2 linked regions of the Homo sapiens genome follow. The protein of the gene in region 1 purifies or fractionates together with the protein of each later gene. This does not show direct contact. Each region holds a gene or a part of one and is shown on either strand. Other genes may lie near its edges.

Region 1 (7,000 bases):
GGAGTTCGAGACCAGCCTGGCCAACATGGTGAAAACCCATCTCTATTAGAAATACAAGAATTAGCCAGGTGTCATGGGGCATGCCTCTAATCCCAACTACTCGGGATGCTGAGGTGGGAGAATTGCTTGAACCCGGGAGGCGGAGGTTACAGTGAGCTGAGATAGTGCCACTGCACTCCAGCCTGGGTGACAGAGTGAGACCCTGTCTCAGGAAAAAAAAAAAAAAAAATTATAGATATTCATGGTTAAAAAAAGCTAGAAAATGTACAATTAATAGATGAATAAAGAAATAAATGCCAGAATGTTTACTGATTATTCCTGGGTGGTGCAGATAAGTGTAATTACTTAATCACACACACATACAAATACACACACAGCATTAAAAAAATGTTAATAGTCATACAAGAACATTTCCAGCACTGTATAAAGTTCTCTTGGACAGCACTTCACTACTTTATACTGCCTCTCAGGACTAGGTTCTGTAGTAGGTACATTTAGTCTTTGTCCATGGGATTATAATTTCATTGACCAGACAGACACATAAAATGGCAAACAACCCAAGGCCAGTTAATAAGAGAAACCAGGCCGAGCACGATGGCTCACACCTATAATCCCAGCACTTTAGGAGGCCGAGGAGGGTGGATCACTTGAGCCCAGGAGTTTGAGACCACCCTGGGCAACATGACGAAACCCAATCTCTACAAAAAAATACAAAAATTAGCTGGGCGTGGTGGTGCAAATCTGTAGTCCCAGATTACTCAGGAAGCTGAGGTGGGAGGATTGCTTGGGCCTGGGAGGTGGAGGTTGCAGTGAGTGGAGATTGTGCCACTGCATTCCAGCCTGGGTGACAAAGTGAGACCCTGCCTTAATAATAAGAACAGAGACCACAAATACTACCAAAGTTCAAAGAAATAAAGAGATAACTACAGGTTGATATGGAAAAGCCTTCATGAAGGAGGAAGATATTTACTTAATAACTCACTGAGGGATATGCATATGCTGCAGCAGGCACTGCACGGGCCTGAACTGAGCAAGACTTAGGGAGACCACAGTTTAACAGAGATAAACAATCCAACAGTCAGTCACCCTCCACCCCACATCTTTCATTAACTAGCTGTGTTACACAGGGACTCTGGTCCTTATGAAGAGGTGATCTCAGACTTCTAGTCTTGAAATGCTGTGATCCAAAGAGAAGAGGAAAAGAGAAAGGCACCAGCGAGTAAGGGAAGCAACAGAGAAAAGGTACGAAGTGGACAGCATGAGCTAGATATTCTCCTAGAACACAAAGCAGACCCAATGGTGACTTTGTGTTGAGGAAATACTCATTCAATCAACATATGTTTATTGAGTGCCTATTATGTACCAGGCACTGTTTTAAGTGTCGGGAACACAGAAGTGCTCAAAATAGATAGAAATCCCTTCTTTGAAAGTCCCAGCATTCTAGAGGGGAAAGAAGTAACTTAAAAAATTAATAAGAGACCACACTGTATGTCAGATGAATAGTGCTACAGAGTAAAATGAGGCAGGAAGAACCATAGGCACTTTCAGGAGCTGCTATTCTAAATTAGGTAGTCAGGGAAGGCTCAGTAAGAAAAATCTGAGCAAACACCTGAAGAAGGTGAGGAGCTGATGGAAGCAGAGGTCCGAAACAAAGAGCAGCACATAGGTGGTGAAGCGGGAATATAAGAGACTAGGTTGGAAAAGTGAGGAAAAGCAGGTAAATCTTCTAAAAAGAACTCTAGGTCTCGGAGTCTGCAGATTTAGATTTCAATCAGAGAATCACGATCTCAGAATTGGAGAGAACTTTACAGTTCATTCAGTACAACAACCCATTAGATTATTATTATTGGTTTTGTTCTGTTTTTTTTTGAGACAGAGTCTCGCTCTGTCACCCAGGCTGGAGTGCAGTGTGTGATCTCAGCTCACTGCAACCTCCGCCTCCTGGGTTCCTCTTCTGCCTCAGCTTCCTGGTAGATGGGATTACAGGCATGCGCCACCACACCCGGCTAATTTTTTGTATTTTTGGTAGTAGAGATGGGGTTTCGCCATGTAGGCCAGGTTGGTCTCGAACTCCCACCTTCAAGTGATCTGCCCGCCTTAGCCTCCCAAAGTGCTAGGATGACAGGCATCAGCCACCGTGCCCGGCCATATTATTATTTTTAATATACACAGGGTCTTGCTGTGTCACCCAGGCTGGAATGCAGTGGCACTATTCCAGCTCACTATAACCTCAAACTGTTGGGCTCAATCCTCTCACCCCAGTCTCCCAAGTAGCTAGGACTACAGGCACACACCATCATGCCTGGCTAATTTTTCTTATTTTTTTGTAGAGATGCTGGTCTTGCTATGTTGCCCAGGGTAGTCTCAAACTCTTGGCCTCAAGCGATCATCCTGCCTCAGCCTCCCAAAGCAGTGGAATTACAGGCATGAGCCACCACACCCAGTCCCCATTAGATTACTAAACCCATATTACTCCTCCCAGGTGACCATCTTGTCTTGGCTTGAACAATTTAGTGGATGTATCTATTTCCACATACCAAGACAGTCTGTCACCTGTGGATAGCCCTGCCTTAGGCTTTAACGTGGGCAGAAATCTGTTTGCTAGTAATATCTACTCTTTGGTCTTTTTAGGGGTACTTTGTATTCTACATACTTCAGACATTTGAAGATACCCACATCTTCTCCAAGATTTCTCTCCTCTTCAGGTTAAAGTTAGCTGATTATTTTAACTTTTTTTTTTTTTTTTTTGAGACAGGGTCTTGCTCTGTCACCCAGGCTGGCGTACAGTGGCACGATCACAGCTCACTGCAGCCTTGACCTCCCAAGCTCAAGTAATCTTCCCACCTCAGCCTCCCAAGTAGCTGGGACTACAGGCACATGCCACCATGCCCAGCTATTTATAATTTTTAAAGTTTTTTTTTGTAGAGACAGGTTCCCATTATGTTGCCCAGGCGGGTCTCAAACTCCTTAGCCCAATGGATCCGCCTGCCTTGGCCTCCCAGAGGGCTGGGATTACAGGCGTGAGCCACGACACCAGGCCTATTTTAACTCTTACATGACATGACCTCATGCCATGTAAAAGTTAAAGGTGTCTCAGCTGCAAGCCACCAAAACTGACTTTGGGTAACTTAAGTTATGAAAGACAGGAATGTATTGGAAGGATATGTAGTAGGACATAAAACCAAGGAAAAGCTGAAGACTCAGCTCGTTGAAAACAACAGCAGCTCTAGTGCCCAGATATTAGGAATTAGCCTGTGGTTGTGATGAAGGAGCTGCAACTGTTTATTGAACTTTTGTTACTGTGTCATTCAACCTAAGATTCAAATTAAAGGAGGAAAGCATCTATTTGCCTAACATCTGTTGGCCTGACCTGGGCCATGTGCCTACCACCTAGTTGGTCAGGGATGAACTGTTCTCCAAAGCAAAATTGAGCTGTTATCCCCAGAAGAACCTGGATTGGATGCTGGACAGGCCAAAACAACTTATGTCTACTAAATTTTCTCAAAATGTGATGCTTCAAATTCCACATGATCTAGATATGGAGGAGCAACACCAGGGCACTGTCTGCACACATGCTGCATGACTGGGAAAGTGACCAAATGTGTGCCTGTTTCCTGCCGGACAGTGATGGTCACAAGCATATTTGGTTATTCCTATGACAATCAAAGAAAATGTGTGCAAAATGCTTTGTAAACTCGAAGCTAACTGTAGTACTTAATACCGTAAATGCTTGTCACAGCCATTTTATATAGATTTTATTTAATCTTCAAAACTACTCTATTTCTTGATTATATGCTAAATTAAAAAAAACAAAAAACTATGAAGGTGGAGATTATGAGCATAAACTCTAGAGTCAGACTAAGTTCTAATCCTGACTCCACCAATCTTTAGCAAATTACTGTTTCTGTCACTGTTGTCTCACCTGTAAATGGGCATAATACTAGCAATACATAGGGTTGATGTGAGGATTGTGAGTTAATACAAATAAAATTCTTAGAACTGTGACTGGTATATATAGCAAACACCTAATACATATTAGCTATTACTATGAGTAGCACTAATTATTCCATTTTTGCAGGTGAGAGAAATGAGGCATGACAGATAACTTGTAAGTTCTCGAAGTTTACAATGGTAAAGCCAGGCCGGGTGCAGTGGCATGCACCTGTAATCACAGCAACTCATGAGATTAAAGCAGGAGGACCTCTTGAGCCCAGGAGTTTGAGGTTTCAGTGAGCTATGATCATGCCACTGCACTCCAACCTGGGCAACAGAGCAAAACCCTGTCAATCAATCAAGCAAGCAGACAAGCAAGGAAGCAAGCAGCAGAGCCGTAAGTTGAACTTCATTGTTGGTGCTCCGACTACCGTACTGTTTCCAAAAGACAAAAAAAAAAAAAAAAAAAAAAAAAAAAAAAAGTGGTAATTTGACTTTAACCCTATCCTCAAGTCACATAATTAAGGATATTTACAAACGAAACTCAAACACAAGAGAGGGAAAAGGGAAATGATCTGTTCTTTCATATCTTGTTTTTTTTTTTCCAGTTTTTTGAGACAGGGTCTCCCTTTGTCACCCAGGCTGGAGTGTGTGGTGTGTGGTGTGATCACAGCTCACTACAGCTTCAATCTCCTGAGCTCAAGTGATCCTCTTGCCTCAGCATCCTGAGTAGGTGGGACCACAAGCACACGCCACCATATCTGGTTAATTTTTAGAAATTTTTTTGTAGAGGCAGGGTCTCACCATGTTGCCCAGGCTGGTCTTGACCTCCTGGGCTTCAGTGATCCTTCCACCTCAGCCTCCCAAAGTGCTGGGATTACAGACATAAGCCCAGCCTGTTTCATGTCTTTAGAGTGTTAGCTTGCAGGCTAATTAGATATCTAGAGAAGGGTGAGAAAAGTCACATAATTTTGTTGTAGTGAAAAAAAAAAAATTCTCTGTCTTAATTGGAAATTATACCCTTTCCAAGATAAGACTTTTGACACTGAATTGGGGGTGTCAATCTCTTTTTTTTTTTTTGAGACAGAGTTTCACTCTTGTCACCCAGGCTGGAGTGCAATGACATGATCTCGGCTCACTGCAACCTATGCCTCCCAGGTTCAAGTGATTCTCCTGCCTCAGCCTCCCGAATAGCTGGGATTACAGGCGCCTGCCACCACACCCAGCTAATTTTTGTATTTTTAGTAGAGGCAGGGTTTTACCATGTTGTCCAGGCTAGTCTCAAACTCCTGACCTTAGGTGATCCGCCTACCTCGGCCTCCCAAAGCACTGGGATTACAGGCGTGAGCCACCACAACCGGCCTATCAATCTAATTTCTGATATCAGTTACTCTTGTTGATAAAGCTGTTTAATTATTCCAAAGCAGTTAACCTCCCAAAACAATTTACATCATTAGTAGAGAGAAAAACAAATACAAAACATGTATCACACTTAGAAAAAGCAGAAATATGTTTATCACTGCAAAAGAGGCATATATTAGAAGAGACAGTTAATAGTTAACTGTGCCTACTGAAAAGAGGTGAATGTATCTCTCCTCATGTATAAATGGTGAGCATAAATTAGTAAGCCTAAATTTTCAAAAAGGGGAGGTGATTATATATGTAGCATTCAAACAATGGTGCTGTCAAAATCAGTTCATAAGCCACACTGAAAATCTAGCCTTGTTATTTCAGTCATATGCTACTACTGATAGTACTGGTACAATGTGTTTGTTTGAGGCAAGGTCTCATTCTCTTCCCCAGGCTGGAGTGCAGTGGTACAAACATGGCTGGCTGCAACTTCGACCTCCTGAGCTGAGCCCAAGCAATCCTCCTGCCTCAGCCTCCCGAGTAGCTGGGACCACAGGCGCACATCACCATGACTGGCAATTTTATGTTTTTGGTCGAGATGGCATTTCGCCATGTTGCCCAGACCAGTCTTGAACTCCTGGGCTCAAGCAATCCTCTACCTTGGCCTCCCAAAGTGCTGGGATTACAGGCGTGAGCCGCCGTACTGGGCCCCATTCAACAGATATTTATTGCTCACCTACCACTGTTCTAGGAGATGGGGGTGAGGTGGTGAACAACACAAAGCCCCTACTTTCATAGAGCTTACATTGCAGGCAAGTATTACAAAGAAGAAATTGTAGCTCAGTTACCAGATCTGTCAGACTCTAAAGCCTATACTGTATCTTTCAACCATGTCATCTCTCAGTGGATACAGCTTTTCCCTAAAAGTATATACCTAAGCACGCAGTCTTGACACTACAGTCTAGACCAATTTAAGCTTTCTCTCTGGTGGCAGTCCAGTGACATCTTCACAATAAAGTGTTCCTTCCCCAACTCTCAAACTATAAAAACCGCCCTATTGGCTGGGCACGGTGGCTCACACCTGTAATCCCAGCACTTTGGGAGGCCGAGGCAGGCGGATCACGAGGTCAGATCAAGACCATTCTGGCTAACACGGTGAAGCCCCGTCTCTACTAAAAAAAATACAAAAAATTAGCCGGGCATGGTGGCAGGCGCCTGTAGTCCCAGCTACTCAGGAGGCTGAGGCAGGAGAATGGCGTAAATAAACCCGGGAGGCAGAGCTTGCAGTGAGCCGAGATCACGCCACTGCACTCAAGCCTGGGCGACAGAGGGAGACTCCGTCTCAAAAATAAATAAATAAAATAAATAAAAATAAAAATAAATAAACCACCCTATCAGGCCAGGTGTGGTGGCTCACGCCTGTAATCCCAGCACTTTGGAAGGCCTAGGAGGGCGGATCACGAGGTCAAGAGATGGAGACCATCCTGGCCAACATGGTGAAACCTCGTCTCTACTAAAAATACAAAAATTAGCTGGGTGTGGTGGTGCACGCCTGCAGTCTCAGCTACTCGGGAGGCTGAGGCAGGAGAACTGCTTGAACTCGGGAGGCAGAGATTGCAGTGAGCCGAGATTGCCCCACTGCACTCTAGCCTGGTGACAGAGTGAGACTATGTCTCAAAAAAACAAAAACAAAAACAAAAAACACAACTGCCCTATC
Region 2 (9,852 bases), on another chromosome or scaffold:
CCAGACTGTCACCAGAAGCAGCATCCCAGCTCCTTGATAATGCTGCTTTCATGATTCATAAATGGATGGGGCTGCTCGCCATATTAGAGCTTCATAAAACAAATCTAAATGTAGACTAAGAGGGCTAATTCCACTTAAGATGTGTTCCAAACAAACTCCCTATGTTTCAAATCAGAACAGCATTTTCAGAGCCACAGCTGCACCACTGGAGACAGAGAATGTGGAATTGAGAACTTGGCCTCCTGATGCTTAGAAACGCCGGCCCTTCCTCCCAGTGCCAGGGAGCTTGAGGGTCCTTCAACAACAACCTACTGCATCCCCCTAGATTGACTCAGGCAGATCAAAGTCCCCGATGCTACATTTGATGGGAAAGTGTCCATAACAAGCCCAGGGTTGGATTTTGGGAGGTCAATTCTATTTCAAGTATTCCTTCACTGCCACAATTGAGCCTGACAAGAACATCACAGAACACAATGTGACTCTGGTACATTACAGGAAGCACTCCCTGAAAATGATCCTATTCTTTTTCTGGGGAAGTTTACCTCCTGATGGAGGCTAATATCCTCAGGAAGAATAATAAAAACCAGAGAAACTCAAACTCACCTCATCTGTTTTTCTCTCACAGTCCACTGGCAATAACTTCACTGAGACCAAGAAAAGAAACACAGAGGAAATTAAGTGTGGGTTGAGAAAGGAATACAAAAAGAGACTACTCACAACATTTGGAGGGAGTAAAGCATTACCAAGCCAAGGGTGGGGATTAGAAAGATGTCATCTAAGGAAGGCACTTTTAAAATGCAGACAGCAAAATGTAAGGGTATCCAAATCCTGGATTAGGAATTACGATAGCTGGGTCCTTGTCCCAGCTGAAAATGATTAGCTCAAGTTTCTTGGGCAACTCAACCACTCTGAACCTCTGTCTCCTCGTCTGTAAAACGGGATCAAATGGGCCTTCCCTGCTTAACTCAGGGAGTTAGGCCCAAACAAAACAAAATATAGGAGTTTTGTAAACAATGATATGTTAAACAGAGATTAACACCGTAATGGGAGGGGAAGTCCAGGTAAATACCAGCATACATTCTAGCGCTGTTGTCTTAAAGCATCTCAGCAGTGAGTACCAGTGTGATACTGTTTGACATCACCAGTGTAGTTATAGTACCATGACACTCCCAGGTCTCCTTAATTTCTCTAGCAGGTCGACAAACTATTCACATAGTTGATAAATGCTCTCATAGTGGGGAAATCATTTGGGTGTTTGCACACGAGTCTGTTAATACCCTTGCCCACAGACTTGTACACTCCCAAACATCCATCTGCCACACCAGCTAAGACATACTTTAGCTTTTTCCTGTATTTTGGCAGTTCCTGCTAGGCATGAAAGGATGTGGCCTTGGCTGGAAGCTGGGAACAGTATTAGTCACATTCGTGCTTTGTAAAGAGTATTAAAAGTTGGTGAACTACAGTGGCCCTTTATACCTAAATGTATAATGAAATGATCTCTATGTTTCCTTTCAGAAAACACACAATCCTCAGCTATTCCGGATACATACTGTATCCTGCAGACCTCTCATTGGCATATCTAACCATGTAACTTAAATGTGGCCAGAAGGATGGCTGTGAGCATCCTTGAGTCGTAGTCTCTCTCTTAACACACTCCATGAGGGTGCTACAAGCAATGATAAGGGCCTCCAGTTGCGATCAGTTTAACCTGTCTGGCAAGCAAGGCTGGTAGATTCTCCTGTTGACAAAGCGGCGGCCCTGTGATTCAAAGAAGTGGAGAGTGGACTTTTTGGTGCTACAAAGGTGGGACCCCCAACCAGATCCTATCTGTGGGCCACTGAAATCTGGAGTGCCTTCAAACAGGCACTAAATGTGTAAGCCAGAGGTCAAAAGGGAAGAACCCAAACGGATGGGGTGAATCTGTTAGAGGGGGGTGTGGCTTCCTCTCCAGGGAGAAAACCAGAGGTTGGAGGAGCAGTGACTACAGCTTGTGATTGAAAGGGAGACGTTAGAAGGGAGGGCTGGGGCAGAAAAGGAGAACAGGAGAAAGTGAAGGCAGAAATTATTGCAGATGCAGGAGCCTTGGCCCTCTCTTCCCACAGCTGGAAGAAGGCAGGCCTGGAAATGAGAAGACAGTCAGAGGCAGCTGACAAGGCCGGAAGTGCGCGGCCTGGCGCCGACAGGAACGGGGGGTCCTCCGGCGGACACACGCGCGCCCAGGGCCCTCCCCTGCGCCGGCCCAGGACGTACTGTTGTCCTCCGCCTCCTGCGGCGCTGAGGGCTTGCCCATCTTCACCCAAAGGATGCCCAGGAAGACGAGCAGTAGCCCTAGGCTGGCCCAGAGCAGAAGCCGAGAGAGCCAGCGCTCCAGCCGGCGCCCCACCTCAGGCCGGGCCCTCGCCGCGCCAGCAGGGCCCGCTCGAGTCGCCCGCAGGCCCGGGCGCGGGTCGGGACCGAGGAGGGAGGAAGGCAGCCGCGCCGGGGCGGGAGACGCTGCCCACCAGCGGCGGGCCGCGAGACCCGGGCCCTGCGTGGCCCTGTCGGGCGTCCGGGCGTCCTCGTCCTCCTCGGAGCTGCCCCGGACCGAGGCGCGGCGCCTGAGTTGCGCCGGGCGGGCAGGATAGGCGAGGCCGCGGCTCCCTACCCAGGAAGCCGCGGAGGGCCGGATATCACCGTAGGCCCCAGGGGTCGCGTAGGCCGAGCCCGAGGCCGGCTGGGAGAGCCAGGGCTCCGCCCGCGGAGAGGCCGCGGCGGGCCGGGCGCGCAGCGGCGCATCCTCGCGTAACCGGGCCTCTTCCCGTAACCGCTCCTCGCCCCGCGGCCGGGCCTCCTCCCGCAGCCGCTCCTCGTCGCGCAGCCGGGCCTCGCCCCGCAGGCGGCGCAGCTTGTTGCGGTAGACATCCCGGGTGGTGTCGGTGATGGGTCCTGGCTGGAAGCCCAGGGCCTGCAGCTCCCGCCGCAGTTCCAGGTCCGACAGGCCGGCCATGGCCAGGACGCCGCCCCCCGCCCGCCCCTGGCGCGCACCGCACCCGGAACTGCTCCCTCCCGCAGGCGCGGCGGAGCGGGCGGGGCCACGCGCCATGATGGGAAGGTCGGTCGCCATGTTGGGAAGGTCTGCACTTGGCCTTTGGTCGGCCATGATGAGGCGGTCTGACGTGGCTCTTAGAGCCGCCATGGTGGGAAGGTCCAAGGGGGATTAAATTTTTTGTTTTGTTTTGTTTTGTTTTGTTTTTCTCTCTCTCTCCGCTCTCCCACTTCCCTTTGTTTGTTAGATCAAGCGGTATTAATCTCTGAGTCCTCCAACCCTAGCTCTGCCTCTGGCAGGTGGTAAGCGTTCAGTAAAGTCAGCGTTGATTTAATAGATGAATTGCTTAATGGTGAACGAAGCCACTGCCACGAATGGAGAGACAGGATGATTTGCCTCTCTGGGCTTGGGGACTGATGTGTGATCCGGTTTTATTTGGGTCTTAGAGTACACTCCAGGCATGCTCCAAGACCCTGTCCCGACTTCGGGCTTGTTAACTGGGCGACACTGAGCACCAAGTAGGTGCGATCCCTGCCTTAGGACAGACACTGGCCCCCAAGGAGCGCCAGCCTGGAGGAGACGCAGCATCCATGGTGGAGGCAGAGGAGCAAAATGCCCTTGGGTTCGAATGGGCAGTTGAGGCTTCTCTGCGGAGGGCCTGTGTCTGCGTAATGGGATTTTTACAAGGAGACATGGGAGAGAGAAGACTCCAGAGATACACGGTCTTGCAGCCTCACTGGTGGTTTAGGTTGTGGGCTTTGGAGCCAGACAGTTCGATTTCAAATCCCTACTCACAACTATTAGATGTGTGATCATATTCAATTAACATTGTTAGCCTATTTGCCAGTAAACCTCAATAGAGTTGCTGTGAGGATTAGAAGAGGTAGTTTGGCTAAGGTGCTTGGGACAGTGCCTGGCACACGTTCATGCGTGTTTATACTTAACCCACATCTTTGCAGTGTCAGTGCTGTGTAGAGCCTCCCACAGGGCAGGTGATTTGGTTACATGAAGGCTCTTAGCAGGAAACCCCTAAGGGAAGCAAGGGAATGTGGCAACTGGAAATAGAACCAGTTTATAATCTTCCTTCCACATCCCTCAACTCCCATTCCCAAACATTTATTGCCGGCCCAATGGGTTCCATCCATTTCTACCCCTGCCATTCCATTCTCCCCTTCCCCCAGGCCCCTCCTCCCTGGAACTGCCCCGTATCTGTCCCAACAGCCCCCTTGCCCATTCCCCACTTTATTCCCTCCCCTCCCTGACACCCTGGGCAATGCTATGCTCCTCTGTCTGGGTTTTGCATTCCTGCCACTTGCTCCACCTCAGGGGTATTCAACACTGGCCACAATTGCTGGGAAAATGACAGCCTCGGCTTGGTCAGCTTCCACTGTTAGCCTCCCCATCTCCCCTGACTTAGCTGCTCCCATGTGGTGTGATTTCTCTCACCAAGTGTTGTTTTCCTTTTCCCTGCATGTGTTTGCACAGAATGCCATGAATTTGATATAGTGATTGCCTAACACATATACCACATAATAGTATTTTATTTCTTTCTGAAGCACTGTTTGCATGACAAATGAGTTGGTAACATTTGTGCAACTCCTTGCAGCTGTGCGGTTCAATATATAAAGAATGAGCCTTTCGGCATCAGTACTGGCCCCATGTATTCTAAGAGGGCTTGAAACTAATGCTTAAACAAAGTTATCGTTACAGCATTTCACAGAGTTATGGTCTATTTTATAACAATGGATCTCAGGGCGATTTAAAAATATGGACTGAACTGGAGCCACCCCCAGTGGTGGCACGCAATGTGGGCTTTGTCAGCTTCCTTGTGTTTGGGGACACTGCTGCCGCTCCACACACGTAGGGTCAAGTGGCCCACAGCCCCTCCCCCAGAACCCTGTTGTCTTCCCTGTGGTGTAGAACCCACTGTGCTTGGAGTTGTGGCCTTTGGCCACCCATGGTCAGCCCTTTTACCTCCATTGTGGCTTCTGGCTGTGGATGGCCTTGTCTTGCAGGATCTTACAGGCAGGCCTTTGGATGTGCACCAAGGGGCACCCAGTGACCACTTAACTGCAAATTTGCTGATCAATGCTCCCCTTCCCCACCCCCTCTGAGAAGGAACCTCACAAGTTAGTCAGGCGTTCCTCCCAGTTTTTGGGCCTTTCCATTTCATCCTGAATTCCCAGCTCCAGTCACGTTCCTGCCCAGATTTATAGCCCCTCTTTGGTTTAGTGAAGTTGGCGTGTTGCTTTTTGCTTTCCTCCACACAACCATCCACATGCTGCCCTCCACTTGGAAGGGCTCGACCTCAGCTCTTCTTTGCCACTGCTGCCCCTTCGGGAGCTACCCACGAAACCTGCCAGGGCTTCTGGCAGCCAGCCTTTCTGTGCCTTCAGCCTGGCTCTCCTGCTGGGCCTGTCCATGGCAGGAAGGCTTATTGTAAAGAAAAGGGCAATATTGCAAAGTCAGAGGCTGCTCTGCATGCCCTCCTTTCTCATCACTTTGCTGTGGGTTTTTTTTTTAAGGTGAGCAGCAGCTTAGGCTGTGGTCAGTCTTCCTGATGTATTAAAGGCAGAAGAGGAAAAACAAGCTCCAATATCTAAATCTACTTAGTAACCACATCCACACATTTATCAGAGGTGAAGGGCTGCTCTGAGCACGCTCTGGATTCCCGGGGGGCTGCCATACTCCCTTCCGTCCCGTTGACCTCTCTCTGTCTTGGCAGAGCCTTATAATAATCACAGCCATAAATCTTTTAGTGGGTTCCATTCTCTTCGTCCTCCTGCAAAAAGCCCTGCACACATTTATCAGGTCCTCAAAGATACTCAGGGACCACGGAATCGTCCTTGATCCACCTCATGGAGGGCCTCACGTATTGCCTCAGCTATTCAGGGCTTCCTTCAAACTACATTATAGGTGGCATTACAGTGGGGGCAGGGCACCGGGAGATTGTGGTTGAAAAGTGGGGGCCATGTGGGGCTCATATTTTGACTGGAATGACCCAGGAACACCCAGCTTCTCACTGCTCCATCTCAGTGCCTTATGGAAGAGGAGGACACTCTTTTCCTCTCTCTAGGTCTGAGGGTGCATCAGCTAAGGGGGAAAATGGAGTCACAGAGAAATGCCAGAATGGTATTTCATAATCTGTTGAAAATTAAACAAATCTCTCACTCTTTTGACTGCTCTCACACTTTGATATCCATGAGTAAGAGTTCCTTCAAAGGCATGGAATATATTACCGAATGTCAATAACAAATTGTGTATGAAGAAAAATGTAATGCTTTGAGAATATTTTCTTTTGGGCTTTGTCCATGATTAGATTACACTAAATTACAGCATACAGATATCAGGCAATTACTCTTTGCTTTTAACTATTCAATTTCATGGCAAATCCACATAGCGCAGTAATGCTAAAATCACACCGATGTGGTTACCAAGAAAATACCTCATCATCTCCATTTTGTGAAGCTAGGTTCAAGTTGCACTGTAATGACCTGTAGTCCTGTTAAGTGTAAAGTACATTCCAGATGAACATGGGGTAATCCGTACCTCTCTGTAATTGCCAGATATCTGGAGAGATTCTTGCAGATGTTGCTGGATAAGCCTGGGTGAGATGTGAAGAGGAATGGCATCTTTGCTCTCCTGGTTACTCTGGCTACCCTCCCTGTCTCTGATCCTGGTTGGTCTCTGGTCCTACTCATTCTATTGCTTTAACCAGGAGCATGTCTCCTTTTCTTCTGTTTTGTGAAAACATAGTCATTTTCTCTTCACTCAGCTCACAGAATCCTCCCCAACCTCCTCCCAATTTTAATTTCTTCCAAAGCTGTGGATATCCCATAAGCAATCAAGTCGGCTGTCCTGGAAACTGGAGGAGCTTGTTGGTGAAAAAAGAATTATTTGAGCCAATTGTGAGAAATCGAACAGTGGCAGGAGGAGGAAAACGAGAGAAGAAAGGAGCCGACACATCTAAACAAGCAGCCAGGGCACTGTGCATACAGATGTAGGTGGTAGCTGGGTCCCTGTTGCGGCTCATTACTGAGAAGCACATCAGAGGCCGCGGGGTGAGGGTTGGGGCTGCCGGGCGGCAATGCTGAGCTTTGAACGGGGCTTTTCTGCAGAATGGACAGCACCCTCTCCCTTCCCCAGTGCTGTAGTTGCTGAACCCATTCCCACCTAAACAGTGCAGACCTCCTGGGCAGAGTCTCCTGTGGGCCCCATGTCCCTCCATGGTGGGTGTCTATTTCAGTGAGAGGCTCTTCAACACCCAGAATCTCAGGGAAAATTCCCCAGCCAGTGCTGGGCTCCCCCCCAACCCAGAAATGGGCACCCCCTCTGGTGATAGGGGAAGGCGGTCTCCCTACAGAGGCAGATTCCAGCAGAGGGTGAGGGAAGGACACAAAATGCGTTTTCCACGGGGAAAGGGACCACCGTGAGCATCTCGTTTCTCTGCTTCTTGGAGTGTGTTACAGAAAATGGGGTGAACTGGCGTGGTGGAGCTCGGAAGGGCAAGGAGGAGCCTTGGATCCAGATCTTCCCAGCAGCAGGCTTTATAGATTTCTGTGTCTCCCCCGCTGCCCCCCGCATGCCCTTCTGCTGCAGCCCTCTCTCTCTATTACCGGGCATCTTGGCAGCATTTCCCGGGAACCTGCACCTGCTCTGGGGCTCATCGGTATATGTGCTGGAAATGCGTGTGAATGTTCAGCGTGGCGGGGGTGGGAGCCCATGGATGGTTTGAGTGTTTCTCAGGAGAATTCAGAGTACCTCAAATGAGGGTGCCTTGTTCAGCAGTGGAGTTCTTGTTCTGGTAACTACTTTCTGTGGCTAAGCCTGGGTGGAAATGCAGAATGGACACTGTATCTAATTGCTGGTAACCTATGGATGGAGGGAGCTGCAGTTCCAGTGTGGCCCCAGTTTATAAATACATGAACATTCATTAATGTAAAATTAAATTGGAATGAAATTTCCCATCCAGTTTTGTTTAGAAGGCAGAAATAAGTGGGTTGGCTGTGTAATTTTGCTGCGGATGCTGGAGTTGGTAGTCACAAGGTGCTAATAGTAATTTGCTCTTTGCTTGTGCCTCCATCCCAGATCTCGAGGCAGATATTACCACCTTGGTTTTGCACAGGCTCATTGAGGTTAAAGGGCTGGTTGGAAGTTACTTGGCAAGGGGTTGAGTGCGGAGGCCCTAAAATTCTCTGGCCCGTTAGACCTTGAGCTAGTCAGTAAACTAGAAATGGACCGAGACCCGGGAGACCTGAATTCCAGTCCTCACTCTGTCACTGACTCAGTGTGTGGGCAAAAAATGATCAGTTTCCTCACCTATAATGGAAGGGCCAGTGGTACTCTTCCACTTATTTGGATCTGAGTTAATATTTGAACTTAGACCTCACAAAAGGCACACAATGCTAATGTAAGCATCATTTATGGCCAACTTTCTCTGAGCTTTACTTTCCCCCCCTTTTTCTTGCGACCTGAGTTTGCCCTTTGGGAATTAAAATATTAAATAAGAGTCATTTCTGTATATTTCATGCTTTATTTGCTGGAGGGGAATTTGCTTTGGAAAGGGTGTTTTCCTTCCAAGCCCAGCTGGCAGGCTCTGTAAATTCCCAGGGCCTCACTTGGGCAGGAGGGGCCTCCCAAATCTGTCCACCTTCTCCCCAGCGTGGCCATCACTTGGCTGCTGGAGAAAAGCAGAGGTTTGCGCTCAGTACCATCATCAGGTCTGCTTATGAAACTGCCCTCTAAAACTTGCCTGCAGGTCGGAGGGAGGAGGGGGCACAAGGGCAGGCTGGGCGGGAAGGTGGGAAGTTTTGCAAGGAGCCTGCAAGCTGTCTGTAGCCTGGGGCAAGTCATTTAACCTCCCAGTTTCTCCATCACTAACAGCACTTCCTCGAGTCTCTCCTCTCCTCCTGGGGACTATGAGAAGTAATTAGTGGCTGTTTGTCAGAGGAGATGTAGCTTTGCTCAGGTAACTCGGGCAGACCTTGAACTGGGCAAGGCCAAATGGGGCTCAGGACTTTAATCTGCAGAATGAATGGGGGAAGGGAAAGCCTCACCAAGGTTCCCTTCGGAGCAGCCACCCTGTGGTGATGTTGTGGAAGGGAATGAAAATATCTGGAGCAGGGGAGTGGGGTGGGTAGCTGGGAACCCAGCCTGAGACCCGCCTCCCTGGAGAACTGCTGCAGCCACCAGCAGGTATCACAGCATAGCCCAGGGAGAAGACGGCTCCACATTCTCAAGTGCAAAGCAGCCAAACAAATTGCCACCCTGAAACCCTGCCTCTGGAGTATTAACGCCAGGGTGGGCGGAGGCCGGCCAAGCCACAGAGATGCCCGCCCTCCCCGTACCATGCTGGGGAAGCATCTCACTCAGCAGCCCTTCCAGGGTGGCCGGGTACTTTTCCAGCTGTCTGGAGTTCATCCTCATTCCAATTTCCAGAGGAGCAGTCAGCTGTGAAATAAGGCAGCGTTAACAACGAGGGAGAGGTGGAGAGGGCCCTTAACCCCTGGGTGCACTACAGGTGGCAGGAGGGACCCTTGGGAGCCACACCACCCTGCAGACCCCACTAGAGCCTCTAGGGATGGCTGGGAATTCTGCCACCTTCCCCTAATTCTAACCAGAGGGCTGGATCCTGAAGGTCACTGAGTCCTGCTGAGGGGATCAATACACCTTCCATAACGGGGAAGCTGGGACAGGAGGGGTGGGGTCAGCAGGAACCCCAGCAGGCTTTTCTCATGGGGAGGGAATTCACTCCCACCTCAACAATTATAGCCAACATTGTGGAGTCTTACCCTTATTCTAAGCTTTTTTTTTTTTTTTTTTGAGAC

The links.
Region 2: the proteins of SGSM3 (region 1) and LEMD2 purify together in Homo sapiens (affinity purification with mass spectrometry; 2 studies listed by BioGRID and IntAct, with this or other methods). This does not show direct contact.

The regions. Positions count from the first base shown.
Region 1 is NC_000022.11:40,373,594-40,380,593, reverse strand, and holds part of SGSM3 (small G protein signaling modulator 3), read right to left. Parts: intron 1-7,000. UniProt on the Homo sapiens protein: May play a cooperative role in NF2-mediated growth suppression of cells.
Region 2 is NC_000006.12:33,786,131-33,795,982, forward strand, and holds the start of LEMD2 (LEM domain-containing protein 2), read right to left. Parts: upstream 3,001-9,852; 5' UTR 2,987-3,000; coding exon 2,251-2,986; intron 813-2,250; exon of another isoform or gene 645-812; coding exon 604-644; intron 1-603. Other genes in the region: MLN (promotilin isoform 1 preproprotein), read right to left, coding at 8,695-8,705, 9,373-9,475. UniProt on the Homo sapiens protein: Nuclear lamina-associated inner nuclear membrane protein that is involved in nuclear structure organization, maintenance of nuclear envelope (NE) integrity and NE reformation after mitosis.